7 separate regions of the Homo sapiens genome follow, and all the other regions are linked to region 1. Evidence: fine-mapped expression QTL. A gene starts in region 1. Each other region holds a variant in brackets. All regions are shown on one strand. Distances are from middle to middle.

Region 1 (4,065 bases):
TCAGAGACCAGCACTTGGCTTTGCATTGTCTCCAAATGGAATTCTCCACCCACCTTTCCTTGATGTTAGCAATAATTCCCACAAGGAGCACTCACGATATGCCAGGAACTGTGCCTCATCTCCCAACAGCATTGTGAGAAAGGCCCTGTTACTGTCAACTGCCAGATGGGGTGACCAAGGCACACAGGGCTGGCAGGCTGCCCCTCAACATCTCCACCCCCAGGCCAGCCCAGCAGGGCCTGTGCCTCACCAGGTGCAACCGATGGAAATCAGGTCCACTGTGGAAGCTCTGCCTCCCTCACCAGGAAGCAAACCCTTGTTGGCAGAGACCTGGCCCAAACCTTGAATTCTTTGGGCTGGGAGGGATTTCAGGCACCAGCTTGATTCCTCCTCCTGCACACGCACATGCACACGCACACACACACACGAAAAATGGAGGCCTAATGAGGCGAGAGGCTCTCTTGCCTCTCTGTGCTGTCTATGCTGATCTCATTCTCAGAAAAAGGCTGTAAAGTAAATCTCTAGACCCTCAGCTCTCCCCTACACCCCCTCCTCTCTCTCTCTCTCTCTCTCACACACACACACACACACACACACACACACACAACCCGTCAGGGACAAAGGAAAGCGAGTCCCGAGATTCAGCAGCCGCTGCAGCCCCTTCTCCCTCTCAGGGCCTCTTTGTGTGGGGCCAGAGGGGGAGGGGGCTGCCTGAATGAACCTCAGATTTAATGAGGGGAAGAGGAAAGGAGAGGGGGGCTGGGGAAAGGGAAGGGAGAACGGGCCTCCCAGCCGGGGTCTTGCTGGAGCCCCTCCCCTCTGCGGCTGCAGCTACAGAACAGAGGTTGGCCTCCCCACAGGTCCCGAACCCGCGACCGGGCACTCCCCGCGCACACCCGAACCTCCCTCGATTCCTGCTCTCCCAACCCAGAGTTCCGCCCGGTGGTCCGTGACGACCCGCACCCGCCTCACTCGAGGGCAGCTAAGAAAGTCCGGGGCTCCCTCCGCTCCCATCCCAGTCTCCGCGCTGGGGCCCAGATGATCCGGGGCGAGCTGGGGAAGTGCCTGAGAGGCAGCGCGAGCCAGACTGAGGACGGTAAAGGGACCGCAGAGAGACTGAGGGACGGACGGGCGGACGGGCAGACGGACAGAAGACAGCAGACGGACAAAGACAGTCGGACGAACGACGGACACAGACAGGAACCAGACAAATACGAACGGACAGGCGGAGCCCGAGCGACAGGAACAGGCGGACTGGCAGGCGGCCAGAGGGGTAGGGCAGGGCACTCGCCAGGAGGGACGGGGCCCGGGCGACCTACACAGAGAACCAGGGCGTCCGGGACGGGGACAGAGGCCACCCCGAGGACCGCCCCAAGTGGGGCGACGAGGGCCCACAGAGCTGCCCCGACCCCGGGCTCCAGGCTTAGTCTCTCCAGGTCCCAGGAGGGCGCCCGCCGAGGGCACTCCCCTCCTGCCCGCGGAAACCCGAGCCGGGACCGCAGCTGCCCGGCGCCTGCCGGCCAGGACTGAGCAGGGGGACGGGGGCAGCGGGATCCGGGTGCCGAGTGAAGGTCCAGGAGGGCGAGCAGGCGGGGCACCGGCCCAGAAAGACAAGTTTGCAGGAAGGAAAAAGAAGAAACTACTCGGAGCAGAACAGAAGAAAGTGAGGGCCCGCAGCAGGAACGGGCGGCGCGCGCGGGCGGGCGCCGGGGTCGGGACTCACGCAGCTGAGCAGGGAGCAGGCTCCCAGGCAGGCCCCCATGGCGGCGGCTCCCGGCTTCGGGCGCCCGGCGCCGGGCGCGGGGCGCGGACCTCGGGATCCGGGTGCCGGGCCTGGCCCCTCCCCGGCCCCGGCCCCGCCCCGGCCCCGCCCCACCTACCGAAGCCGCTCGACGCTTTCCGGCGGCGCTCGGGGCCTCCCCAGACTCACCTGGGGCAGGTGCGCCAGGAGGGACCCTAGGGAAGGGGCCGGTCGGGGATTCCCGCGGCCACGCGAGCGGCGCAACCTGACCCAATCGTGGCCCGGGCTCGCATCCTGCTCCAAAGTGAGCGTTCGGAAATCGACCTCGGTTTGAGCCCGTGTGACCCCAGGACACTGTCACCCTTGGGAACAGAAGCCAAGAGGTGGTCACCGCTGACTCCTCAGTGCTTGGCGCAGGGCCTCTGCTCAATACGTAGATGCTGAGGTTGAATGCTGAATGACTGGATAAAGAAACTTCGGCAAGTCACTGCACCTCTATGAGCCTCAGTTTCCCGGTCTGTAAAGTGAGGATACATACCTCACAGGGTGGTTACAACACATGGTAGGTGCTTGACAAATGTAAGCCCCCATCGTCACTGTTTTCTTCTTCCTTTTTAAGAGACAGGGTCTTGCTCTGTCACCCAGGCTGGAGTGCAGTGGTGCAAACATAGCTCACTGCAGCCTCGACCTCCTGGGCTCAAGTGATCCTCCTGCTTCAGGCTCCTGAGTAGCTGGGACTACAGGTGCATGCCACCATGCCCACCTACTGCTTCTTCTAAGACCCCAGCCTCTCACTCTAAACCCATCCTCCCTTCTCTCCATCTGTTCTTCAAACTCCACTGACTCCCAACAGCCTGCTGGGAGCTACACACTCCCTACAGCCACCCCTGCTTGGTGGCTTATCACTCCCTAGGGATGCCCAAACTGGTCCCTAGCTAAGGAGGTCAGAAGGTGGGGAGGGGCGGCCACATTCCTGACAGATGGCTTTCCAGGGGTAGGTGTGAGAGACCCAGAAGTAGGGCTCTGTAATTAGTCTCCCTTCACCCTTAGCCCTGTCCTCAGCCACCTCTGGACAAGATAATGTTAGGGAAAGAAGTCTCTGTGCCTCGAAGCTGGCCCCAGGGCCAAAGAGCTGGTTGACTGCATCCTTGGCTGATTCACTGGGCGCCAGGCTTAGCCATTAATTGCACCAGGACTGTTCCACAAACACACCCTATACTTTTCCTCCTCCGCACTTTTGCCCACACAATGCCCTCCTCTTTTTTTTTTTTTTTTTTTTTTTTTTTGAGACAGGGTCTCACTCTGTCACCCAGGCTGGAACACAGTGGCCCAATCATGGCTCACTGCAGCTTCAACCTCCTGGACCCAAGTGATCCTCCCACCTCAGCCTCCCAAGTAGCTGTGACCACCAGTGTGTACTACCACACCCAGCTAATTTTTTAAAAATTTTGTGTAGAGATGAGGTCTCCTTATGTTGTCCAGGCTAGTCTCGAACTCCTGGGCTTAAGCAATCCTCCTGCCTTGGCCTCCCAAAGTGCTGGTATTACAGATGTGAGGCACTGCACCTGGCAGATGCCCTCCTCTTAAAGGTCCTTCTCCTTATCCCTCTTTCTCCCCTTTGAAGCTTGCTCACATGCCATACCTCTCAGTGAAGAGAGCCACCACCCTCACCCCCAACCCACTACCTGGTTCCATTAGGAATGAACATCCTCCTGATTCCCCCAAGCCTCCAAACAATATGGGCCTCCCTTATGGCCTCACAAACAACCCGAGCACATGCCCAACTTTCCCCCGTGGTACCATTTGAGCCCCACAACAGCCCTGAGAAGTCGATTAATTCCCCACCCACTCGTTTACAGATGAGGAAACCGAGAAACAAAGAAGTAGTGACACGCGAAATGTAAATCAAGCGTCGAATAAACGTTGACTGTGATCACTGTGGTTGTTGTTACTATTGCTGAAGGCCACACAGCTCAGAAGAAACAGAGCTGAAAGGCAACCTGGCCTGGCTTTCACCCTGATGTCCTACTGCTTCCCTTGAAAAAGTAGAGGTGACAATATCTAGTCTTCCTATTTTTCTGTCCAGCAATATTTCAGTCCTTCCCTAACCCGAGGCCTTTAGGGGACTGTGAGCCACCCAAGAACGGTCTGCTCTCTGGCCACCCCCTCTCCTACCCAGAGCACAGTACAGGGCCTGGCACACAGTCAAGCAGTGAATGCTTACTGGATGAATGTCTGACCTTTTACCATAAGTCCACTTTCCTCCTTCTTCTGTGACTGACAGTCTGATCCAAAAACATACCCTACACAGTCATCTTCTGCAC
Region 2 (4,065 bases), 21 kb before region 1:
GTCCCCGTGCAGCCCCACTAGTCACTCACCCCAGAACCCAGGAGAGCCTTAGAGACAGGCTGTGTCCCCAGCACCCATCCCCAGCACCTTCATACCTATTTTTTATCCCCACAAATGGAAGGGATGAATGGCCTGCAGTCCATCATCGTAACAAGACCAGGCCTTGGGGCCCTAGCCAGGAGCCTGTCAGTCTCCCTCACATCTCTCTGCCCTTGTGAGATGGGGGCTGATGTTATTTCTCAAGAACTCGCTGTGCCAGGCAGATTGCATGGGCTGCTTCCTCTGATCCTCACAACAGCCTAGGAGGGGTGGCATTGTTCCCATTGAATGAATGAGGAACCAGGGCCCAGAGAAGAGAAGGACCCATCCGGAGCCGGACAGCAGCCCCGCGGCTGCCGTGGTACGGAGGGATCTGGGCCAGCCTGGCTGACTCAAGAGCACATGCTCCTCCCCACAGCACCCCGAGGCCTGGGGCTTGACTGGTCAGGGCAGGTACCAACGGTGGTAACAATTCCAGGCAGGTCAGAGGTGGGCAGGACCTTGAGGCAGGCCCTGATGAGAGGGGACCTGAAGACCACCTTCTGGCCCTGTCATCGCCCCCTCCTCCCCACCGTGACTCTCTTTCACTGCCCTCCCTCGGATGGTTGGATGGTCGGGCAGCCTCCTGCTGGCCCCACTGCCTCTAGGGTCTCCTTTTCTGACCACCAGACACACCCTACTTTCCCAAAACCCTGGTCTGCCCCTCCTTCCTCATTGGCCCCCTCCCCTCAGGCGCTCCATGACCCAGAAGACAGAACTCAGGCCATTCTGTCTGCCTTTGAGGCTCCTCCTGGTCTGGCCCTGATGTCCCAGCCTCCTCAGCCCTAACATTCTATTCCCAAACCCCACACCGGCCCCCATGCAGTGGGGCTCCGTGCTGAGGGTGAGGGGCACAGAACATGGTACACGCACTGGCTTGTTTATTAGAAAAAGTCTTAGAGACTCAGTAAGGCACGAAGTCCAGGAAGTGGGCAGGGTCCCCTGGGGGACGTGACCAGGAACACCAGGGCTTCAGTGCCGGATGCCCCACTGTGGTGGGAGTTCCCCGCTCTCTCCAGCAGCCCCGCTCCCGTGGAGCCTGAGGACAAGGGAGCCCTTTCATCCGAGATGCTGAGTATGGGCAACAGGGAGGAGGGGAAGGAAGAGGCAGCTCCACCGTGTGGGTGTGGCGGGGGGATGGGGCTCTGCAGGAGCCTGATGCTCCTCGGACCCTGAAGGCACTACGACTAGAAGGCCCGGCTCAGGGGCAGGTCCTGGAGCTGGGGCAGGGGTGGGGGCTCAGCCTGGCTGATTGGTGTGGGGAGGGGGCAGGTTGGCTGTCACTGAGCCGAGAGGCACCAGGTGGCAGGAGGCACCAGATGGCAGGCTGTGAGGCTGCCTCAGCTGAAGTCGCGGTTGCGCAGGAGGAGTGGGGCTACCAGGGTCCACAGGTAGAGGAGCAGCCCTGCCCAGCTGGCACAGATCTTCACCCACACGGCGGTCCACGTGCTGATCATCTTCCGGGTCTCACCGGGCCTGGAACACACCATCTTCCCCATGAGCC[T/C]GGTGCCCAGTCTGGTGACTTCCATCTTGGCCCCTGGCCTTATGTCCCAGTTATGACCCCTGACTTCAACTCTGGCTCTTACCCTGTAACTCCAGTCCATCTCTGACATTTTTAACACCCGGCCTTGTGACCGTGGACATAGCTCCTGACCTCGATTCCCATCTTGAGCCCAGTGTTAGTCCATGAGATCATGACCTGACTCCTGGTCTCCAACCTTGTGATCCTAATTCTGGGACCTCAATCCTAGCCTCTGAACTTGGGACCCTGGAGCTCCTGACCTTAGTCCTGACCGCTACCCTTGATTCTGACCTTTGATCCTGTAACTTAGGGGTGGCCCCTGACCTTATTACTGTCATTTAGCTCCTTGACCTTGCCACTTCAATCCTGGCTTTATGACCTCCTACTCTCAATTTTAACTTTAACCAAATGACCAAATTTGTGACACTAAATGACCACAATCCCAGCCCCAGACCTCATGACTTCTATCCTTGACCTTGTAACTTTGGTTCTGCACTCCACACCCTGATCCTAACCCTCCAACCATGAAGCCCAAATCTGACCCCATGACCCCTGATTTGTAAACCCCGCCTGCCCTGTACAGGTCCAGCCCCAGCTGCTGTGCCTTCCCCGGTTCAGTCTCCTAGTGAAGGTGCGGGAGCTGAGCAGATGAAGGCACTGTTGGGGAAACTGTAGCAGGGAAGGGGCAGGCTCTATGGAGGGTCCTTGATACACACCGCCACCCCCAAGCCTTAAGCAGACATCAGGAAAACCCAGTGAAGGGCCGCAGGAGAGATGTGTGGACCTGCACCCTGCACCTCCGGGCTCTGTCCATGCCCCACCAGCTACGCACTTGTACCAGTTGGTGAGCGTCATCATGACGTGCAGTGAGGCCAGCACCAGGCAGAAGTGGAAGAAGGAGTAGCTGTAGGTGACGCCGTCCTGCTCGTTGTCAAAGGCCCGGCCCTCACAGGCTGCCACCTGCTGCTGCTGCTGTGTGGCGTCTAGCATAGGTGGGCACTCCTCGGTCTGCATCAGGCTGTTCACCTGCCGGTGGTCTGAGGAGCGCAGACTGCAGGGGAGGGAGGAAGGTGGGCAAATAGATAGCTCTGGCGTTGCTCATAACACTGGACACAAATGGTCCCAGAGCCTCAGAGGCCAGCGACCCGGTTACTGGGCCTGGGAGTTAACAAACTGCTTTGCCTCTCAACTCTACCCCTACCCCCACTCCCATTTTCTGTGTGACCTTGAGCAAAACACTTAACCTCTCTGAGCCTCTGATTCCTTGTCTGTAAAATAAGGGATAATCGTACCTCCTCTAGAGGGCTGCTGGGGGGACTAGACGGAATAATGATGTAAGGTCTCTAGCATAGTGCTTGGCACAGAATATAAATTCAATCAACAGTCACTATTGTTAGGATTGTTCCTTTGCCATTTCCATAAACACGTATCGAGTACCTAATACTACAAAGTACCATACCAGGTACTACATCCATTAAGAATGTTAATAATTAATCACGCTCATTTGCCATTGATTTTAAGTTTCCATTTTATTAGTGTCAGGTGGTTTTACCAATGGCCTCCCTTTCCTTCATGCTTACACTAAAAAAAGAACAACAGTAATGATTGTATGTCATGCTTTTCTGTGATGAGCCTTGATGTTTTTAACAGAATTTGATAGTTTGAGACATAAAAATTTTTGAAAAACCAACTCACGTTTCCAAACAAAAGTGAAAAGGAGAGCTGGATTCCAGCCCCGCCACCCCAGCAAATTGAGAAATCACCCCTTGCTGTGAGTCAGTGGGTCCCTATCCACCCTCTCCACCCTGTCCACTCTCTCCACTCTAACCACCCTATCCACCCTATCCACCCTATCCACCCTGTCCACCCTGTCCACCCTGTCCACCCTATCCACCCTAACCACCCTATCCACCCTGTCCACCCTGTCCACCCTAACCACCCTGTCCACCCTGTCCACCCTGTCCACCCTGTCCACCCTGTCCACCCTGTCCACCCTGTCCACCCTATCCACCCTATCCACCCTATCCACCCTATCCACCCTATCCACCCTATCCACCCTAACCACCCTAACCACCCTAACCACCCTATCCACCCTAACCACCCTATCCACCCTATCCACCCTATCCACCCTGTCCACCCTGTCCACCCTATCCACCCTATCCACCCTATCCACCCTATCCACCCTATCCACCCTATCCACCCTGTCCACCCTGTCCACCCTATCCACCCTATCCACCCTATTCACCCTCTCCACCCTCTCCACCCTATCTACCAAATACCATATGGATATCTCATGCATGGGAGCCCAGATTGGGTGGTCCTGGCCCTCATGGGTTGCATATGCTTCTTTGCTGCCTGTGCTGTAAGAACCATGCTAAGAACAGACCTGTGCCCCTGGGCTCTCAGCAGTGCATGTGCCAGGGAGCTGTGGGTGTGGAAGCAGCAGGAAAAACAGCTGTGCCAGG
Region 3 (4,065 bases), 120 kb after region 1:
AATGGAAGGACAGCTTCTCATACTAATTCTTGGCGTCCTTTCACCTTTCATCCTTTCTCAGGAGACCCTGCTATCAAAAACTACTAATTTTGGGTAGCTACTTTAGTATCCGATTTATCACTGTCACCCCAAGTGAGGTGTTTATAGTCTGTGTATGCAAATATAAAGATGTTACATCGGTCATTTCAACAACCCAGACAAATTTTTCTTTTTTTAAGACATAAAATAAATGTGATTTTTATATGTAGGCTGGAGTGCAGTGACACAAACATGGCTCACTGCAGCCTCAACCTCTTGCTCGAGGGATCCTCCCACTTCAGCCTCCCAAATAGCTGGGGCCACAAGCCCACGCCTCCATGCCCAGCTAATTTTTAAAAATCATTTGTGGAGACATGGTCTTGCTATATTGCTCCTGAGCTCAAGCAGTCCACCTGCCTCAGCCTCCCAAAAATGCTGTGATTACAATAATTAACCACCATGCCTGGCCTGAAATCAGCTATTTCTATTATAAAAATCATTTCTTTTGAGAAACCAAAAAAAGCAGAAAGATGAAAAAATAGTCTATATTTCTACCACTCCAAAGATAATCAGTGTTAATTTTTTTTTTTTGAGACGGAATTTCACTCTTGTTGCCCAGGCTGGAGTGCAATGGCACGATCTCGGCTCACTGCAACCTCCGCCTCCCAGGTTCACGTGTTTCTCTTGCCTCAGCCTCCAGAATAGCTGGGATTACAGGGATGCATCACCGTGCCTGGCTAATTTTGTATTTTTTGTAGAGACTGGGTTTCTCCATGTTGGTCAGGCTGGTCTTGAACTCCCAACCGCAGGTGATCCGCCCACCTCAGCCTCCCAAAGTGCTGGGATTACAGGCATGAGCCACCGTGCCTGGCCAATCACTGTTAATTTTATACATTTTTCTAATGCCTTTTTTTCTACTCAGAACTGTTTAGTTGTTGCATATTTGTTAGAACTATGTGTACAATCTTTTTTATTTATTTATTTATTTTATTTTATTTTTTTGAGACGGAGTCTTGCTCTGTCGCCCAGTCTGGAGTGCAGTGGTGCGATCTCGGCTCACTGCAAGCTCCGTCTCCGGGGTTCACACCATTCTCCTGCCTCAGCCTCCTGAGTAGCTGGGATTACAGGTGCCCGCCACCATGCCCGGCTAATTTTTTTGTATTTTTAATAGAGATGGGGTTTCACCGTGTTAGCCAGGATGGTCTCGATCTCCTGACCTTGTGATCCGCCCGCCTTGGCCTCCCAAAATGCTGGGATTACAAGTGTGAGCCACCGCACCTGGCCAGAACTGTGTGTACAATCTTATTTGCTCCTTTTTTCTCTTAACATTGCTCAGCCAACATCTGATGTCATAAACGTCATTTTAATGACTATATTATTTTAGAATATATTATAGATAATATAGAAATCTGGCTATACAAAAGTAATTACATTGTTAGGTAGTCTGGTAAACATTCATTGTTTTACATTTCTGACCTCTAAAATCTTAGGGTGCTCCATCAATTGATACATAGCATTGTATACATTTTAAATAAAGCATTAGAAAGCTGGGCCTGGTGGCATGTGCTTATAATCCCAGCTATTTGGGAGGCTGAGGCAGGAGGATTCCTGGAGCCCAAGAGTTCAAAACCAGCCTGGGCAACACAGTGAGACTCCATCTCAAAAAAAATGAAAAAAGAAAGCATTATAAGATCAGTTATAACTTAGAAATCATCCTCAGAGGCTGGGCGTGGTTGCTTACGCCTATAACCCTAGCACTGTAGGAGGCTGAGGCAGGAAGATTGCTTGAGCCCAGTTCAAGACCAGCCTGGGCAACATAGTGAGACCT[T/A]GCCTCTACAAATGATTTTTAAAAATTAACTGAGCATGGTGGCACAGACCTGTGGTCCCAGCTACTCAGGAGGCTGAGGTGGGAGGATCACTTGAGCCCAGGAGGTCGAGGCTGCAGTGAGCCATGATTCCAACCCGGGTGACAGAGCAAGATCTCATCTCAAAAAAAAAATGAAAGAAAGAAATTGTCCTCAGAGACAAAAGAAAAACTTTGGTAAAGAGAAAAGATTGGAGTCACTCAGCTGTCAGGTCGGTACCACAGTCTGTCTGATCTCTGCAGCACCAGGGAGTTATTAAACATTTCCAAGTGAGAGGGTGTCTTATGTTTAAAATGTTAGCTATCACAAAAGAGGAAAAGATAGAGCAAACTGCTACATTAGATGTATGTCATGGGGACTCAAAGAAGGGGAATTTTTTAAACTTCACAGGGGTAGATCTTTTATCTGGGCCATCTGGGCCTAGAGGACAAATAGGATTTTGGTAGGGTGAGGCATTCCAGCATCATGGGCAAACTGGCGTAGCACAGCAGGTCAGTGATCTTGAAAAATTTGGCACCTTTTGTCAAGTAGGAAAGATAGATTGTTACTGTTTATCTTCACTTATTTCTTTTTTATTCTTTCTCTTACTTTCTAGTATGCTTTTCTCAGCATCCACAGATAAAACCGTGGCTGTGTGGGATAGTGAAACAGGTGAGAGGGTTAAAAGGCTAAAGGGACATACTTCCTTTGTGAATTCCTGTTATCCAGCCAGGAGAGGCCCTCAGCTTGTCTGCACTGGCAGTGACGATGGCACAGTTAAGGTGGGTATTGTCTCTCCGTGTTCCAGTTTCTGAGGTGATGTGATGTGAACCTTATCTTGCCTTGCCACTTGTACTCTAGCTTCCTGTGCAAAACTTAATTTTAGCAGTCATCTCCCATAACACACTTGAAATTTTTCCCCATTTAAAATAAAACATTTAATACAAGTTTTAATTACCCTACAGAATAATAATAGAACCATAGAATAAATTGTTACTTGAAATAGGCCGGGTGCTGTGGCTTACGCCTGTAATCCCAGCACTTTGGGAGGCCGAGGCGGGTGGATCACGAGGTCAAGAGATCAAGACCATCCTGGCTAACACGGTGAAACCCCGTCTCTACTAAAAATACAAAAAATAAGCCGGGCGTGATGGCGGGCACCTGTAGTTCCAGTTGCTTGGGAGGCTGAGGCAGGAGAATGGTGTGCACCCGGGAGGTGGAGCTTGCAGAGATTGCACCACTGCACTCCAGCCTGGGCGACAGAGCGAGACTCTGTCTCAAAAAAAAGAACTGTGACAGTAATATACGTGTCTTTCAAGGCTGTTATGAGTATCTCCACCAACAGGGAGGTAGCAAAAAAAAAAAAAAGGCTGTTCTGAGATTATAGACAATATATAAAAAGTTCAGTGAATAGTTTTAGTATGGCACAAGATGGGAACTTAAACATCGTTTAGTCAGATGGTTGCCAGCCTATCTTTATATCATCATCACCTGAAGAACCTGTTAAAAATACCCAAAGAATCTGGTTCAGTGGATCTGCAATGGGAATCAGATATTTTAATGTGTCCTTCAAGTGATTCAGTGTAGCCAGTCTCACATTCTGGGAGCCACTGATCTCACTGAGCATCCTCATTTTATAAATAAGGAAACTGAGGCCTAGAAATAATAATTTATCTCAGAGGCACACAAGGACACAGTACATCATAGTACCAACCATTTGATTCTCTCTTTGACACGAATTTTGGGCTCTGGTTTATATTTTAATTGTTAAACAGTGAGGGACTTCAAAAGAGTACATCTGGGAAACTACACCCCCATACTTCTTATTGCTTTTTAAATGAATTAATGAATTTGCTTTTTTTTTTTTTTCTTTGAGACAGGGTCTTGCTCTATCGCCCAGGCTGGAGTGCAGTGGCACAATCTTGGCTCACTGTAGCCTCCACCTCCCGGGTTCAAGTGATTCCCCAGCCTCAGCCTCTTGAGTAGCTGGGATTACAGGTGCACACCACCATACCTGCCTAATTTTTCTATTTTTGGTAGAGATGGGGTTTCACCATGTTGCCCAGGCTGGAGTGCAGTGGCGCAATCTCAGCTCACTGCAACCTCTACCTCCTGGGTTCAAGCAGTTCCCCTGCCTCAGCCTCCCTAGTAGCTGGGACTACAGGGACCCATACCACGCCCAGCTAGTTTTTGTATTTTCAGT
Region 4 (4,065 bases), 42 kb before region 1:
CGAACAAAAATGGTGCTAAAGAAAATTCAGAAGGAAAATGGATATTGCTAGACCAGAGAGAAATGTTATCCAAACCCCTTATGAGGGAAATCTTGTCCCAACTACATCAAGAGACCCACTGGGGGCCCCAAGCCATGTGTAACACAGTCCTCAGAGTTTATAAGTGCATAGAAATGTGTACCCCGGCCAAACAGGTTACAGACAATTGCTTAGTAAAAGATTACCACTTGGGGGAAGGAGTCCAGGCTTAAGCCCATTCCAAAGTATCCAAATCGATTACACAGAGAAGCCTCCAACTGGTCGTCTAAAGTATTTATTAGTAATAGTAGATCACCTTACTCATTGGGTAGAAGCTATTCCCTTTTCAAGTACAAATGCTAATAATATAATCAAGGCATTAGTTAAAAATATTATACCCAGGTTTAGATTAATAGAAAACAGTGATTCAGATAATAGGACTCATTTCACAGCACATGTCACTAAGAAATTAGCACAGATACTGGATATAACATGGGGATATCATACTCTCTGGCATCCACCTTCATCAGGGAAAGTAGGAAGGCATATTACCCTGTGAAGAGTCCGAACTGCTCCCCCAAAAGACAGGCCTGTCCCCTTATGAGATGCTCTATGGATTGCCTTATCTACATTCTACTACTGATCTCTCTACATTTAAAACAAAAGAACAATTTCTCAGAAATTATATACTTGGTTTATCGTCTACTTTCCCTTCCCTCAGAACTAAAGGTCTTTTAGCACAGGTGCCACCCCTAGAGTTTCCAGCACACCAACATCAGCCTGGGGACCACGTCCCTGTCAAAAGTTAGAGAAAAGGAAAAATTAGAACCAGCCTGGGAAGGATCTTACCTAGCGCTCCTAACTACTGAAACTGCAGTCCGGACAGCAGAAAAAGGGTGGACCCCTCACACTCGAGTCAAGAAAGCGCCGCCCCCTCCACGGTCATGGACCATAGTCCCAGAGGAAAACCCTACCAAACTAAAGCTAAGAAAAATTTAACTCTCTTTCATCTATTCTATTACTTCTTTCCTCATTCTATTGCTGACCACCTAGTTATTAATGTAACCAAGCCAATTTTGCCTCAAAATATTACATTTGATGCTTGCTTTGTTATACGCTGTGGAGACTTGCCAAGTCAGAAGCAACTCTCTGCTTCAGAAAAGTATATTTATCCTCCCTAGCTCTCCTTAGACTGGAAATCTGTTAACTGGGATAGGTTAGTTTGAGAAGAGTTTGACGAAGATTCCAGTATAAACTGGGAATCTTGTCCTTCTACAGCAGAGCTTCTCTGCTGAAGTTGGTCCATATAAAATACTATATGGACCTATAAAATACTAAAGAGCGAGGATGGACTGCTCCAACTAGTACTTGCAGTTTCTTAAAACCATATGTTCATTTTACTAAAGGAGTTATCCCTCCACATTGTCAGCTGAACCAATGGAATCCAGTACAGATGACCATCGCTGCTCCCCAGAGTTCTTCCCCTCCATTAAGCCATTTCTATGGTATAGGGGCAGAAGTCTCAGGGAACAACCCCCATAGGATCCTTTGAAATGCGCTTCATTGCCGCCTCACCTCCTCCACCCCCTTCTCCCTCTCTTAAGTTCTCCGCTAACCAAACCTTCTCTTGTTATATACCCA[A/G]TGATAAAACCAAAGTAGTTGTAGAGGTTAAAGATTTAAAACAAACTATAGCAATTGACACAGGGTATCAGGACACAAATGCTTGGCTTGAATGGATTAAATATTCTGTTCTCATGCTAAACAAAAGTGACTGTTAGACTTGTGTGACAGGCAGCCCAGAGACAGAGATTGTCCCCTTTCCACTTGGGTGGTCCTCTCACGGACCGGGCATGAGCTGTTATGGTAGCTCTCTTCCAAAACCCCACAGCCTGGGGTGATGAGTGATGGAAGACTCTTTCACTGCTGTTCCCTGAGGTTAAGAGCCCTGCGGGTCAGCCCCTGAGGTCCATCCAGCCTCCAGCCCCTGGTGTTTACTTCACCTCCTGCCTTTCATGGCAGAGGAAAAAGTTAGCATTCCTTGGAGACTTAACAGGGTGCAGTGAAACCAAGCCTTTTCAAGAGGTTACCCATCAGTCTGCCCTTGTTCATCCCCGAGCAGATGTGTAGTGGTATTGCAGGGGACTATTGCTGGGTACTCTGCCAAGTAATTAAAGCAGCACTCATGCTTTAGTCCAATTGGCCATCCCTTTCACCCTAGCATTCCGTCAACACGATTAAAAAAAAAAGAAAATCGTAAAAGAAGTGCTTCACATGGGTCCTTTGATTCCCATGTTTATATAAATGCTATTGGAGTTCCACCAGGAGTACCAGATAAATTTAAAGCCTGAAATCAAATAGCTGCAGGATGTAAGTCAATATTTTGGTGGGTAACAATTAATAAAAATGTAGATTGGATAAATTACATTTATTACAACCAACAGCAGTTTATTATAAACTACACTAGAGATGCTATTAAAGAAATAGCTGAGCAATTAGGGGCTACTAGCCAGATGGCTTGGGAAAATAGAATAGCCTTAGACATAATGTTAGCAGAAAAAGGAGGAGTTTGCATCATGATTAAAACTCAATGTTGTACCTTCATCCCAAACAATATTGCTCCTGATGGAAGTATAACAAAGGCATTGCAAGGTCTAATTGCTCTATCTAACGAGTTAGCCAAAAACTCAGGAGTAAATGACCGCTTCACCAGGTGGCTAGAAAAATGATTCAGTAAATGGAAAGGAATCATAGCCTCAATTCTTACTTCTCTTGCAGCCATAATAGGTATAGCCATTCTTTTCAGGTGTTGTGTCATACCATGCATCCATAGGCTGGTGCAGAGGCTCATAAAGGCAGCACTTACTAAAACCTCCTTTAATTCTCCTCCACCTTATTCAGAGAAGCTTTTTCTTTTAGAGAATCAAGCAGAACAACTAAGCCAAGACATGTTAAAGAAGTTTGAAGAGAAACAACTGTAAAATTTCAAGATGGGGGATTGTTAAAGATAGTGAACTCCAAGTTTCTTTTCAAAGAATCAGTATGTCAGTATGTTCAGCTCTCTTATTCTTTATTCTCCATTTTTAAGTCTAACTTCCTGGTTCTCTTGCCCTCCCCCCTTGCCTCTAGTTTCAGTAAACAACTTTCCTGCCAGTTCTAATCAGTAGTTCACATCTGTTCCCCTGGTCACCTGCTTTGACCCGAGTCACCCCTGGCCACCTGCTCCATCTTGAGTCACCCCTGTCACCTGCTCTGACCTGAATCATCCTGAGTCACCTGTTCTATAACTGCCCTTCCTGCCAAACTACTCACCCTGACACTCTGGCTCGTACCCCTGCTCTCTTTAAAATACCCCATCAGAATTAGCTTAGACTGTGCGGTCCAATCCTAGCCAATAGGGGAATGACACAACAGCAGGGGCTACCTGCATCAGGAATAAGAACCACTTCCCTTCCCTTGTTCAGGCATGCTTTCGCCATTACTCCATCCGCAAGTCGCACCCTTCTATAGAAGTAAAAATTGCCTTGCTGAGAAAATTAAATTTATGTTCAAGTGCATTTCTTTGCAGCATCGAGGAACAAGCATTTGTTACTAACACCCTGAACGACCAATAACAAGCAACAGGATTGAAATGGTAAGAAAAAGTTAGCTACAAAAAAAAGTCCAGGATCAGACAGATTCACAGATGAATTCTACCAGACTTTCAAAGAAAAATTGGTACCAATCCTGTTGACACTATTCCACAAGATAGAGAAAGAGGAAATCCTACCCAAATCATTCTATGAAGCCAGTATCACCCTAATACTAAAACCAGGGAAGGACATAACCAAAAAAGAAAACTACAGACGAATATCCCTGATGAACATAGATGCATAAATCCTTAACGAAATACTAGCTAACTGAATCCAACAACATATGAAAAAGATAATCCACCATGATCAAGTAGGTTTCATACCAGGGATGCAGGGATGGTTTAAAATATGCAAGTCAATAAATGTGATACACCACATAAACAGAATTTAAAACAAAAATCACATGATCATCTCAATA
Region 5 (4,065 bases), 160 kb after region 1:
CAGGACTGTTTAGAGCCTTTAATATACATAGTATGGTAGAATCTCCAAAGGGAATAGTGACTTTCAGATTTCTGGTCTGAGCAATATATATATATGGTTATGCCTTTAACCAGGAGAAATTTGGACAAAGGTAGTATGCAAGCTGCTTTTCACACCTCCAGCAGTATCACTGAACACTCCCTAATAATCCTTTTTAAGCACCAGGTCCACATACAGGTAGAACATCTGTCTTGGTCCATTTTGCATTGCTACAAAGAAACATCTGAGGCTGAGTAACTTAGAAGTTTATTGAGCTCACAGTTCTGCAGGCTGTACAAAAAGGGTGGCACTAGCATCTGTTTCTGGTGAGGACCTCAGGAAGTTTCCAGTCATAGTGGAAGGCAGAGGGGGAGCAGATGTATCACATGGCAAGAGAAGGAGCAAGAGAGGAGGAGATGTGCCATGCACTTATAAATAACCCATGAAAACTCTACCACAAGGAGGGCATCAAGCCATTCATGAGGAATACACCCCCTTGACCCAAATACCTCCACCTAGGCCCTGCCTCCAACATCGGGCATCAAATTTCAGCATGAGATTTGGAGGGAACAACTATCCAAACTATATCAGCATCCCTAATCCAAAATCCTAAATGCTCCAGAATTTAAACTTTGAGGGCCCATATGATGCCACAAGTGGAAGATCCCACACTTAATCTCATGTGACAGGTCGCAGTCAAAACTTTGTTTCAGCTGGACACTGGCTCACACCTATAATCCCAACACTTTGGAAGGTTGAGGTGGGAGGTTCACTTGAGCCCAGGAGTTTGAGACCAGCCTGGGCAATATAGCAAGACCTCATCTCTACAAATAATTTAAAAGTTAGCCAGATGTGGTGGCACACACCTGTGGTCCCAGCTACTTGGAAGATTGAGGTGAGAATCGCTTGACCCCAGGGGATCAAGGCTGCAGTGAGCTATGACCATGCCACTGCACTCCAGCATGGGTGACAGAATGAGACCCCATCTCCAAAAAAAAAATAACTTGGTTTCATGCACAAACTATTTAAAATATTTTACAAAATTATCAGGCTATGTGTATATGAAACAAATGAATTTTGTGTTTAGACTTGGGTCCCAAGATATCTCATTATATATATGCAAGTATTCAGAAATTGGGTGCAATGAGTCATGCCTGTAATCCCAGCACTTTGGGACGCCAAGGCGAGAAGATTGCTTGAGCCCAGGATTGCTTGAGATCAGCCTGGACAACATGGCAAAACCCTGTCTTTACAAAAAATACAAAAATTATCCAGGTGTGGTGGCATGCACCTATAGTCTCAGCTACCTGGGAGGCTGAGGTGGAAAGATTGCTTGAGCACAGTGGGTGGAGGCTGCAGTGACCCAAGATCCTGCCATTGCACTCCAGCCTGGGTGAGAGTGAGATCCTGTCTCAAAAAAAAATAGTAAAATCCAAAATCTATAACACTTATGGTCTCAAGTATTTTGGATAAGGGATATTCAACCTGTACTTGAAAACCGGTCCAGTCCCTTCCACCCACCCTCATCTTTTCTTGGGTTGGAATACAACAGGGCTTCAACCTTGACACTGCCCTTTTAAAAGCCTACCAATCCCTTGAGAAGTTGGCAGTGATTGGGAAGAGCCAAGACCCTGGAGACTGTGAGGGCTTTCCTCTAACCTCAGCTTCTTCAGTCCCCCCTCAGGTGCCTTCTTCAAGAGGCTGGGTAGAAGCCATTAGCAGGAAATAGCAGCACCATTTAGAATTTGAAGAAAATAGAAGCCCCAGCCTGGGGAATAAAGATTTGCGTATAAAAGATCCCCAGAGGGTGCAGATTGTATTCTCACTTTGGGAGAGA[G/A]AGATTGCTCCCGAATGAGTAATGGCATCCCTGATTTTCAGTTAATTTCCCTTTATGACTTCCACAATCTCTAGCACTTAATACTGTTGGCACTTAAAGAGCCAAATTTCTTTTTTGCTGCGTGGCTGAGTTTTGTGGGTTGAATTTTTAGGGAGGCAGATTTTCAGGTTATTTTTCCTTTTTTTTTTTTTTGGCCTCCCTGATATAATAACTACCTTTTCTCCTAGTCAGTAGCCCTAATCCCGTTCAGTCCCAACCCCCTAAACAGTTTATTTACAGGCCAGCCCATCAGAACAAAAATTGGTACTGTCTTCCCTCACCTACTTCCCCTGGTTGTTCAGGGATGGTCGATCCCTTTTCAGGTTAGAGAAGCTAATCCCTGAAGACCTTCATGGGCCTAGTGAAGTTATGCAAGGATGAGTCCTGTAGGGAAGCAGATCCAAGCCTCCAGACGTTGTCTTCTATTTCAAGTAAATAGGTAATAGGCAGAGTTGCTGGTTTCAAAGACAAGAACAATCTTTTTCAGGGATTGGATCTAATAAGCTAGAAAGAACAGGTAAAGGCTTATCAGAGTTGCTTCTTCACAACAAAACTATTTGCTTCTTACTAATAGACTAGAGTCTGCCGCTTACTAACATCTCAAAGTAGAAGAATGGGAAACTGAGGTAAAAGAGAGCTCTGAGCAATTTGGAGCCGTAGGCAGTTGAGCCTTAAAGAAAGGTTGTCAGGCCATTTGGGTTAGGACAGGATTGCTTTTTCCAAGAGTCTTTGGGGCTTGACAGCTGATGTCCCAGGAAGAGGGAGGAGCCTGACTTAAAATGGACAGCCCTGTTCCTGTGGAACCAAATGATGCCAGGTCTGAGCTCTTAGCCTCTTAGCCTGCCCTTTGATCAATTGTCTGTGAACCCCAGACACATAATGATGCTCCTCTGAAAGAAGCCTGCATGGATGGCCATCCTCTGCATCAAGCCCGGGGATGTTCCAAACTCTTTCTTCTAGGCTTCAACTTCTTTTCTTCAATTGACACTGCAACCCACCTAGACTCTTGCATTCTTTTTTAACTTAGATCTTCTAGAGCAGTGCTTCTCAATCTTAGGCAATTTTGCCTCCCAGGGAACAATTTGACAATGTCTGGAGCTATCTAGAGGGGTGCTACAGACATATAAGTGGGTAGAGGCCAGAGATGCTCAAAGAATTAACTGCTTTAGGATGTCATGAGTGATGCTTTTGAGAAATCCTGCTCTAGAGCAGTGATTCTCAAAGTGGGGTCCTGGATCAACAGCATCCACAACTTGAGAACTTCCTGGAAGTACAGTTTCTAGTGCCCCACCAAGGCCTGCCAATTAAATCAGAATCTCTGGCCGGGCGCGGTGGCTCACGCCTGTAATCCCAGCACTTTGGGAGGCTGAGGCGGGCGGATCACGAGGTCAGGAGATAGAGACCATCCTGGCTAACACGGTGAAACCCCGTCTCTATTAAAAAATACAAAAAATTAGCCGGGTGTGGTGGCGGGTGCCTGTAGTCCCAGCTACTCGGGAGGCTGAGGCAGGAGAATGGCATGAATCTGGGAGGCGGAGCTTGCAGTGAGCCGAGATTGCGCCACTGCACTCCAGCCTGGGTGACACAGCAAGACTCTGTCTCAAAAAAAAAAAACAAAAAACTATCCTGGCTAACACGGTGAAACCCTGTCTCTACTAAAAATACAAAAAAATTAGCCAGGCGCGGTGGCAGGCGCCTGTAGTCCCAGCTACTCGGGAGGCTGAGGCAGGAGAATGGCATGAACCTGGGAGTGGGGCTTGCAGTGAGCCAAGATCGTGCCACTGCACTCCAGCCTGGGCGACAGAGCCAGACTCCGTCTCAAAAAAAAAGTTAATTAAAATAAATAAATAAAATAAATCAGAATCTCTGAGGTGGACATCAGATTTTAAAGCCTCCTGAGGTGATTCCAGTGTGCAGTCAAGGCTGAGAACACTGGTGCTGGCCATGGCTAGAACTATAGTCAGGAGGGCAGCATAAAGCCAAGTTAACTTCTCCTTCAAGAAATTTTGGGGGAGTAAAGTGTTCAGTAGTCTGTGTTTTAGCAAGCCATCTGGGAGATTCTGGTGCAAGTTTGAGAACCACTGTTCTACAGGCTCGGAAAGTTTTAATCTTTCCTAGGAGAGTGCTAGAGCCTTGTCCTGTTTACTTATTAATAGTTGTCCTTGGCCAGG
Region 6 (4,065 bases), 150 kb after region 1:
GACTCCATCTCCAAAAAAAAAACAATGATATAGCTATGCAGGATGTCTTCTTGTGTTTTATACATAAAGCGTGGATATGGAGCTAGAGCAGACATAGAGTTATGACTGTGCTTGAAGATGAAGCTCTGTGCAGTATGAAGGGTTTCAAAACCGTGTTCGACAAACAGATCATTTCTACCCACTTTGGAGACATTTTAGACCTAGAGGATCAACAATTTGTTTGATTCTGTTGGGTTCCCTTTGCCATCAGAATAAAATTCAGTCTCATAATCTGTCTCTAGTTTCCCTCACCACATTTCTTATTCCATGCTTCAGTTCATTTGAACACATATTAAATACCCACCTCCCCCACCATCACCACAATGCTGCGCACATGGAATTTTCATATTCTAACCTCCTTTTGCGTTCTCACCTCTAGGTTCTCTCTCACATTCCCTCTTCATTATCTAAACTCCTATATCTCTCTAGTAACCACCTCTATGTTACATCCATAAACTGTCCCTGGTCCCCTCTCTCTATTACCTCTTGGAGATAACTAATTGTTCTTTGTGCTGTAATCCCATTTCATACATCTAAACTTTGGTAGCATTTATTACATCTTACAATCAGACAGACAAAGTGAGGTACCTCCACTAAGTTATTTTCTCCTAGAGATTAGGGAATGAATCTTAGTCATTTCTGTGAACCCATGGCACTGTTGTCAGTGCTTGAGCTTTTCTAACCAATTAGTTTATATTACATGAATGAATTCCTAGCTGAAGAATGGCAGTCCAATTTTACCCTGCATAGCAGCTCAGCTATTGGTAATGCCTGCCTGTGTTGGAGATGATTCAGAGCTGTGTCTGGGTTAGTGGGAAGTGCAATGATTGCTAGGTGCAGGGTGTAACAAAATGTGAACTAGGTATTTTCCACCCCATGCTGAATTAATCGGCTAAGGCTTTATGAAATACGAATCTAAACTGGCTCAGGCATTATGTGCTGAATGAGAAACAGAAGGGAGAGAATTCTTCTGTCAGATGCTGTTGTATTTGGCATGTCTGTGGTAACCTGTGCTTGGGGGAGAATCAGAGGTTGAATAGGGATGTCCAGGTGTCGAGTCTGATGGGCTGCAAATGAGGCCTGGTAAAGAACAATAAGACCCTCTGACAGCAAATCCTGTGTTTAGCTCTCATTGGGCAGTGTCTTGACCCTTTTTAGCTTAATCCTATCCTCCCCTTTAGAGTTTCTCTTTCAATCCTACTGAAACAAGCACCATCCTATAAATAGGAAGACTTTCTTGGGCTAGCCAGGGCTTTCAGCATATTCCAGGGTTTTCCTCTATTTGGGGCCCTAACGCTGCCACACAGAAGCTGCACTGTGATCTGTCCCATACCTTTCTATTAATGAATAATTCTGAACATATTTAAATTCCAGAGTCTACTTTTTTTTTTCCTGACAAGTTTAATGCCAAGAAAAATGGACAAGTATTCAGGTATTTTCTGGAGGAAAAAGAAAGGGTCCAGGTGAAAGTGTCACATTGATCATTTGAGTGCAAGTGGTTTAGAGAGCTGCCTAGAAGAGGGAAATCTAAAGAATTTTAAGTTATCAAGTTGCTAGAGAAGACTTCAAGAAACAGACTAAGGTGTCTCATATTCTGATATAGTAAGAACTATCCTAAGTATTTTTACATAATTTTCAGCAGAAAGAGTGTATCTTTTGTAATTAAATTTTTGTTTGTTTTTGAGATGTAGTCTCACTCTGTCGCCCAGGCTGGAGTGCAGTGGTGCAATCTCTGCTCACTACAAGCTCCACCTCCTGGGTTTACACCATTCTCCTGCCTCAGACTCCCGAGTAGCTGGGACTACAGGTGCCCGCTACCACGCCTGGCTAGTTTTTTGTATTTTTAGTAGAGATGGAGTTTCACCGTGTTAGCCAGAATGATCTCAATCTCCTGACCTCATGATCCGCCTGCCTCGGCCTCCCAAAGTGCTGGGATTACAGTCATGAACCACTGCACCCAGCTGTAATTAAATTTTTAAATTATATTTACATACTTTTTTTTTCTGATGAGCAGTTTGTTTCTGGCATTGGCCCTTTCTGAATTGCAATGTCCTTTTTTTCTCTTTTCCTCTCCACTGTTCCTTTAAACTTTACATGTGGTCAATGGTGCACACCTTTAATCCCAACACTCTGAGAGGCTGAGGTGGAAGGATGGCTTGAACCCAAGAGTTCAAGACCAGCCTGGGCAAGATGGCAGGACCCTGTCTCTATAAAAAAAATATTTAAAAAATTAGCCAGGCATAGTAGTGTGCACCTGTAGTCCCAGCTACTTGGTAGGCTGAGGCAGAAGGACCCCATGAGCCCAGGAGTTTGAGGATATAGTGAGCTGCAATCATGCCACTGCTCTCCAGCCTGGGCAACAGAGCAAGACCCCATCTCTTTAAAAAAAAACAAAATCACATGTGAAAGC[G/A]TGGTATGAGGAAAGCCTATCCCTCTCTACCTGCTGGGGGTTGGCAAGATTTGACAGGCCACCTCACCAATTGGCCCCAAGTCAAGAAGCAGCTGTGTTACATAAGGCTTCTGGTTCCTGCCAAATGTTGCCATGCCAAAGTAAGGAGAGGGCAAGGAACCCCTCTAAATTTAGCATCTAATTGGCAGCCATCAAGAGTGAGACCTTGAAGTGTAAACCCTTGGAGATCTGGGATTCTGTCTTTTATGTGCCTGGGAAATGTATCCTCAGAAAACTCCTTTTCAGCTTGGCCTGGATTTGGCAAACTTCTCCTTTCTACTAACTAATAACTTACAGATCACCTCCTCATATTCAAACTTGAAACTCTGAATAGTCCTATAGGCTACGGGAAGGCTGACCAGTCTCTCGGCCAAGAGTGATTTATTCAGCCCATTGACTTCATGAGATTCTGTTTTGATGATGAGTGTACTTATAATAACAATAGCTATAATTAATTCTGTGTGCCAGGCACTTTGCATATATTACCTCATTATTTTTCTCAACAAAGTTATGAGATCAATATTTTCTCCATCATTGTAACTAAGAAGCTTAGAGAAGTTAAATGATCTGCAATTATTTAACTTCTCTGAGCTAAGCTTACTTAGCTAGTAAATAGCTGCACTGAGACTTGAACCCCAGTCTTTCTGACTCCAGAGCTCATACTCTTTCACTATGCCATACTGCCCTTTATTGAATTAATGAGGACCAGCTTTTTGTGCATGACAAGAAAGAAGACAGTAGGAAGGGCATGAGTATCAGAGCCATGGAGTCTAGACAGATGGAGTTCCTGCTTCTCTTCCATCTTGTTCAGAACTTACTTTCTATGGAGCCTAGCTGATGACAGCTAAATAGTATAATTAAGAAGCTCTTGTTTATTTGCATTTTTGACCAAAAGTGTAAGTTGGATTAGAACTAGGCATTTTATAATCCAGTACTGGTGAATGTACCATTTTTATGATCAAGTACTGGTGAGTTGTTGATTGCACAAAACAAAATATGTAAATAATTTTAAATACCTGCTTCAAAACTACCAGCCCTTTATATTTACCAACAGATGAATTTTACATCATCAGATTAAGATAATAGCTCTATACTTTACCCTTTAATGACTTAAGCAAGATTGAGGGTCAAAGGAACTTTTTTTTTTTTTTTTTTTTTTAGCCAGTACATTTATGGAGGGTAAGTGAAAGTAAAATACGAGAGTATATTAAGAGCTCCAGAGTCTTGGGTTCAGCTCTGTAGTTTCTGTGGCTACTGAAGAGGTGGTCAGGAACATAGGAACCCCCTGCTGGGCTCCTGGTCACTTCTGTCTGCTCCATGGCAGGAAACCTTCAGCACAGGACATCAAGGCAAGCTTGAATAAGAAAAACAATTTCTTCTTCCTAAGCCATATCATATCAGTTATACAGAAGTACTACTTTGGGACACAGTCTTCAGGAGAGCCTAGATGAGCTCATAAAATCTCAGCAGTTCACTCAACTTGCCCTTCAAGTTTTACTTCAGTTTGATAAGGCTATAAAGTCATCATTGGCTCAGAGGATTAGGAACAGAGTTGATTTCAGGGGCTCTCTAAATAC
Region 7 (4,065 bases), 190 kb after region 1:
CTTTTCCCCAGCAAGTGTCCCAGCATCAAGGAGTAGCCGCCTGAGAGCAGGTGTTCCTCCCTCCCTGAAGAAAAGAGGACAAGACGCAGGGAGGTGCCAGGCACTGTGCATCTCACTTCAGATGCATTTCCTCAGTTGGTCCTGCAGTAACCCTAAGAGGTAGACACTATTATATGGATACTATCTCCCATGTACAGATGAGGAAACTGAAGCTCAGGGAGTGACAGAGCCTGCCCAACATCACACAGTATTTGTTCAGGACTCTAACCCAGGCCTTTTGGACTCCAAACTCCTTGAACTTTGCACTTCACCAGGTTTGAGGGTGCAGTTTGCTCTCTCTTCCTTTCCCCTCTCCTGAGCTTCAGTTTGGGCCTCAGTTGTTCTGAGCTTCCTTGTTGGGGAGCCTTGAAAAGCTGTTTAATGTGCTCCTCTGCATCCGTCTCCTGGTTGAAGAGGATGCATTGAGTCCTCCTGTTCCTCTTCCTCTCACCCTGCACCAGCTGAAGAAAGAATGGGAGAGCCCCACCACTGGTGACGGGTCACCACCCCCAGATGGGTCCATACCCTGCCTTGGCAAAGGAAAGTGAAGGCCTGGCAGATGACAGTCTCTGGCCTCTTGACCCTCTGTAGGACTGTGCCCCCTTTATCTGAGTGACAGGTGGTCACCCTGGCAACAGGCCCTTTGCCCAGCAGGGGTCCCTGACTTCCCAGTAGCCACTTCCCTTTCACGTGTGAAGATACACACATGTTCTGCAGCCACAGCAGCTCTGTCCAGCTGGAGGGAGTCTCCATGTCAGGCCAGCTTTCAGATGTGGGTTTTTACCAGCCCCTCACCAGACTGCCCTGGACCCAGCCTGCGCAAGCAATCTTAATAAAATGCAGTTCTGCTGGGCACAGTGGCTCACGCCTGTAATCCCAACACTGAGAGGCCGAGGCGGGTGGATTCCCTGAGGTCAGGAGTTCAACACTAGCCTGGCCAATATGGCGAAACCCTGTCTCTACTAAAAATACAAAAATTAGCCAGGTGTGGTGGTGGGCGCCTGTAATTCCAGCTCCTCAGGAGGCTGAGGCAGGAGGATTGCTTGAACCCGGGAAGTGGAGGTTGCAGTGAGCCAAGATCGCACCACTGCACTCCAGCCTGGGTGACAGAGTGAGACTCTGTCTCAAAAAAATAAAATAAAATAAAATGCAGTTCTGATACTGCCTCGCCTCTGTTTAAACCCTACCCCTGGCCCCTCATTGCCTTCAGGATAAAGTCTAAAGCTGTGTTTCTCAAACTTTAGCATGCATCAAAAGCACTTGGAGGTTTGTTGAAATATGGATTTCCAGGTCAGGTGCAGTGGCTCATGCCTGTAATCCCAGCACTTTGGGAGGCCGAGGTGGGCAGATCATGAGGTCAAGAGATCGAGACCATCTTGGCCAACATGGTGAAACCCCGGCTCTACTAAAAATACAAAAATTAGCTGGGCTTGGTGGCGCGTGCCTGTAGTCCCAGCTACTCGGGAGGCTGAGGCAGGAGAATCGCTTGAACCCGGGAGGCGGATGTTGCAGTGAGCCGAGACCGCACCACTGCACTCCAGCCTGGCGACAGAGCAAGACTCCGTCTCAAAAAATATATATATATGGATTTCCAGGCTTCACCCCCAGAGTTTCTGATTTAGGAGGTCTGGGATGGGGGCCAAGAATGTGCATCTCTAACAAGTTCCAAAGTGATGCTGATGCTGCTAGTCCAGGGACCACACAATGAGAATTATTCGTCTAGACCAGAGAGACACTGAAAGCCTGCCCAGGCTTGCCTGCTAACCGAAACTTACCACTTCCGTGTCCCTAAACTCAGGTTGCATGGACCTAAACACCCTGGGTTGTTTCACACCTCAGAGCCTTTGCCATTTGCTGTGCCTGCCTCTCTGGAAGCTCTTTCCTTCTTTATCTCCTAGGCCTGCTAATCCATCATTTCATCCTCGGAGCATCTCTGTACTCCCGCATGCTCACCACACTGACTTCTTCCTCTGGGCCCTGACAACTTGTCCCCTGCCTCCATCACAGCAGGTACTATGCTGTTGTAATTCTGCTCTATTTCCACATCAAATCCCTCTCCCTGGACTGGGAGCTCCTTGAGGCCTGGAAGTGTCCACTGAGTGTGGACATGGAGTGTGGCCCTCAGAAGGAACTCAGTGAATGTGTGATGCTTGAATGAACCCCAAGAGCAGATGGAAGGCCCAGGTGAATAATCACAAATCACAAAGTTTCATAGTTTATCCAGCCAGTCAAATATTCACTGGATGCTTTTTTTTTTTTTTTTTTTTT[G/TG]GAGATGGAGTCTTACTCTGTCGCCAGGCTGGAGTGCAGTGGCACTATCTTGGCTCACCGCAACCTCCACCTCCCAGGTTCAAGTGATTCTCCTGCCTCAGCCTCCCAAGCAGCTGGGATTATAGGTGCATGCCACCACACCTGGCTAATTTTTATATTTTTAGTAGAGACAGGGTTTCGCCATGTTGGCCAGGCTGGTCTCAAACTCCTGATCTCAGGTAGTCCACTGGCCTCGGCTTCCCAAAGTGCCAGGATTATAGGCGTGAGCCACCGTGCCCGGCCACTGGGTGCTTATTCTGTGCTAGGTAGGTGCTGGGGATACGGTAGTATGGGAGGCAATGTCCCTGCCCATGTGGACTCAGATGCTATCAGTGATCATGTTGGGACACAGATGGTGAGCATTATACAGGAAAAGAAGATCGTAAAAGATCTGAATGTTGCCAGGTGTGGTGGCTCACGCCTGTAATCCCAGCACTTTGGGAGGCCAAGGTGGGCAGATCACCTGAGGTCAGGAGTTCGAGACCAGCCTGACCAACATGGAGAAACCCCGTCTGTACTAAAAAAAAAAAAAAAAAAAAAATTAGCTGGGCGTGGTGGCACATGCCTGTAATCCCAGCTGCTCAGGTGGCTGAGGCATGAGAATTGCTTGAACCCGGGAGGCAGAGGTTGCAGTGAGCCGAGATCACGCCATTGCACTCCAGCCTGGGCAACAAGAGCAAAACTCCATCTCAAAAAAAAAAAAAAAAAAAAATCTGAGTGTTCTGAAGCAGGTTTAGCAGCAGTGGCCAGGGTGGAGTTGAATAGCCTGTGCAAGCAAGGCACAAACATTTCACAGACCTTACTGCACTCATTTGCTCCTTCATACAACTCTGCTAGGCAGAAACTGTCATCCCTGTTTTACAGATGGGCAAGTGGGAACCAACAGGGGAATTTGCTGGGCCACAATCACAGCCAGCACATGGCAGAGCTAGGACTTGAACCTGGATTTCCTGATCCCAAGCTCTCCAAACCCTTGGGCTACTCCTGGAGTCTAGGCACCTGTGTGGCCTGAGACCTTCCTTTGGGAATGTGTCTCCAGTGATGATTTACGAGTTTGCTCACAACAGACACCACAGCCCCGCTACAGGGGACCTGGGCGGTACCGGAAGCATTAGGGGGCCTTCTGTGGCCCTCCTCTGGCCATGCCCCTTTCCCCAGGGCGGGCAGTCCACAGGATCAGGGGGACATGCTCACTGGAAACCTATGCCTACGCTCCCACCCTAGACTCCACCCCAGATACTCAGGACCCCAGATTCCCCCATCCAGTCAGCCCCAAGCCCACTGTCAGGGCGTGCCGGGGCTTCTCCAGAGGACAGCCTGCGCTGCCAGTGTGTGTATGTCCACCCATAGACAGCGCCAGCTGCTTGGAAGGAGGGGCAGGTGTGGACATAGCTTACACATGTGTCCTAGGATCCAGACCTGCGTATGAGACCCCAGCCAGAAATGGGACTGATAGCTGGGGCTGGCTTTCCCATATGCTGAAAGATGCTACTACCTTCTGGCTCAAAACTCCAAGAAGTCAGAGGAATTGAAATTCACAGCCTGGCCTACCAGACCATTAAGTCTATTAGAAGACAGAACATATATTTAGGAGGTTGTTAGTTTGGTTTGTAACTTAGATATTTAGGCATGTGAGGGGTAGACCCGCATTGGTGCTCCTGCCCTGGTCCACAAGGCCCCCAAATGTTAGAGAAGGGTCTGGACTTGAGGGCAGAATGC

The links. PIP is the estimated chance that this variant, and not a neighbour inherited with it, causes the effect.
Region 2: its variant is fine-mapped to the expression of SERINC2 in whole blood (GTEx, PIP above 0.99).
Region 3: its variant is fine-mapped to the expression of SERINC2 in whole blood (TOPMed, PIP above 0.99).
Region 4: its variant is fine-mapped to the expression of SERINC2 in whole blood (TOPMed, PIP above 0.99).
Region 5: its variant is fine-mapped to the expression of SERINC2 in whole blood (INTERVAL, PIP above 0.99).
Region 6: its variant is fine-mapped to the expression of SERINC2 in whole blood (TOPMed, PIP above 0.99).
Region 7: its variant is fine-mapped to the expression of SERINC2 in whole blood (INTERVAL, PIP above 0.99).

Annotation. Positions count from the first base shown.
Region 1 is chr1:31,410,963-31,415,027 of GRCh38, reverse strand. It overlaps SERINC2 (serine incorporator 2), which reads right to left and starts at 1,815. Exons shown (of 10, transcript NM_178865.5): 1 at 1,724-1,815. The coding sequence starts at 1,762. RefSeq lists enhancers at 1-296, 1,567-2,067 and silencers at 1,791-1,850, 1,931-2,000.
Region 2 is chr1:31,431,553-31,435,617 of GRCh38, reverse strand. It overlaps SERINC2 (serine incorporator 2), which reads right to left. Exons shown (of 10, transcript NM_178865.5): 9 at 2,433-2,651; 10 at 940-1,554. The coding sequence ends at 1,419. The region is part of intron 1 of LOC124903900 (a long non-coding RNA gene); the gene reads left to right. Among named protein-coding and RNA genes, the nearest start is that of SERINC2, 20 kb to the right of the region's middle. RefSeq lists a silencer at 330-530 and an enhancer at 302-1,106. The variant T/C (reference allele first, on the strand shown) is at 1,583.
Region 3 is chr1:31,287,833-31,291,897 of GRCh38, reverse strand. SNRNP40 (small nuclear ribonucleoprotein U5 subunit 40) reads left to right here. Exons shown (of 10, transcript NM_004814.3): 4 at 2,479-2,644. Among named protein-coding and RNA genes, the nearest start is that of SNRNP40, 6.9 kb to the left of the region's middle. The variant T/A (reference allele first, on the strand shown) is at 1,847.
Region 4 is chr1:31,453,051-31,457,115 of GRCh38, reverse strand. All of the region lies in intron 1 of LOC124903900 (a long non-coding RNA gene), which reads left to right. Among named protein-coding and RNA genes, the nearest start is that of SERINC2, 42 kb to the right of the region's middle. RefSeq lists an enhancer at 2,644-3,843. The variant A/G (reference allele first, on the strand shown) is at 1,660.
Region 5 is chr1:31,253,811-31,257,875 of GRCh38, reverse strand. No RefSeq gene overlaps it. Among named protein-coding and RNA genes, the nearest start is that of NKAIN1, 16 kb to the right of the region's middle. The variant G/A (reference allele first, on the strand shown) is at 1,856.
Region 6 is chr1:31,263,496-31,267,560 of GRCh38, reverse strand. All of the region lies in intron 8 of SNRNP40 (small nuclear ribonucleoprotein U5 subunit 40), which reads left to right. Among named protein-coding and RNA genes, the nearest start is that of NKAIN1, 26 kb to the right of the region's middle. The variant G/A (reference allele first, on the strand shown) is at 2,450.
Region 7 is chr1:31,218,997-31,223,061 of GRCh38, reverse strand. All of the region lies in intron 1 of NKAIN1 (sodium/potassium transporting ATPase interacting 1), which reads left to right. Among named protein-coding and RNA genes, the nearest start is that of NKAIN1, 19 kb to the left of the region's middle. RefSeq lists an enhancer at 308-808. The variant G/TG (reference allele first, on the strand shown) is at 2,308.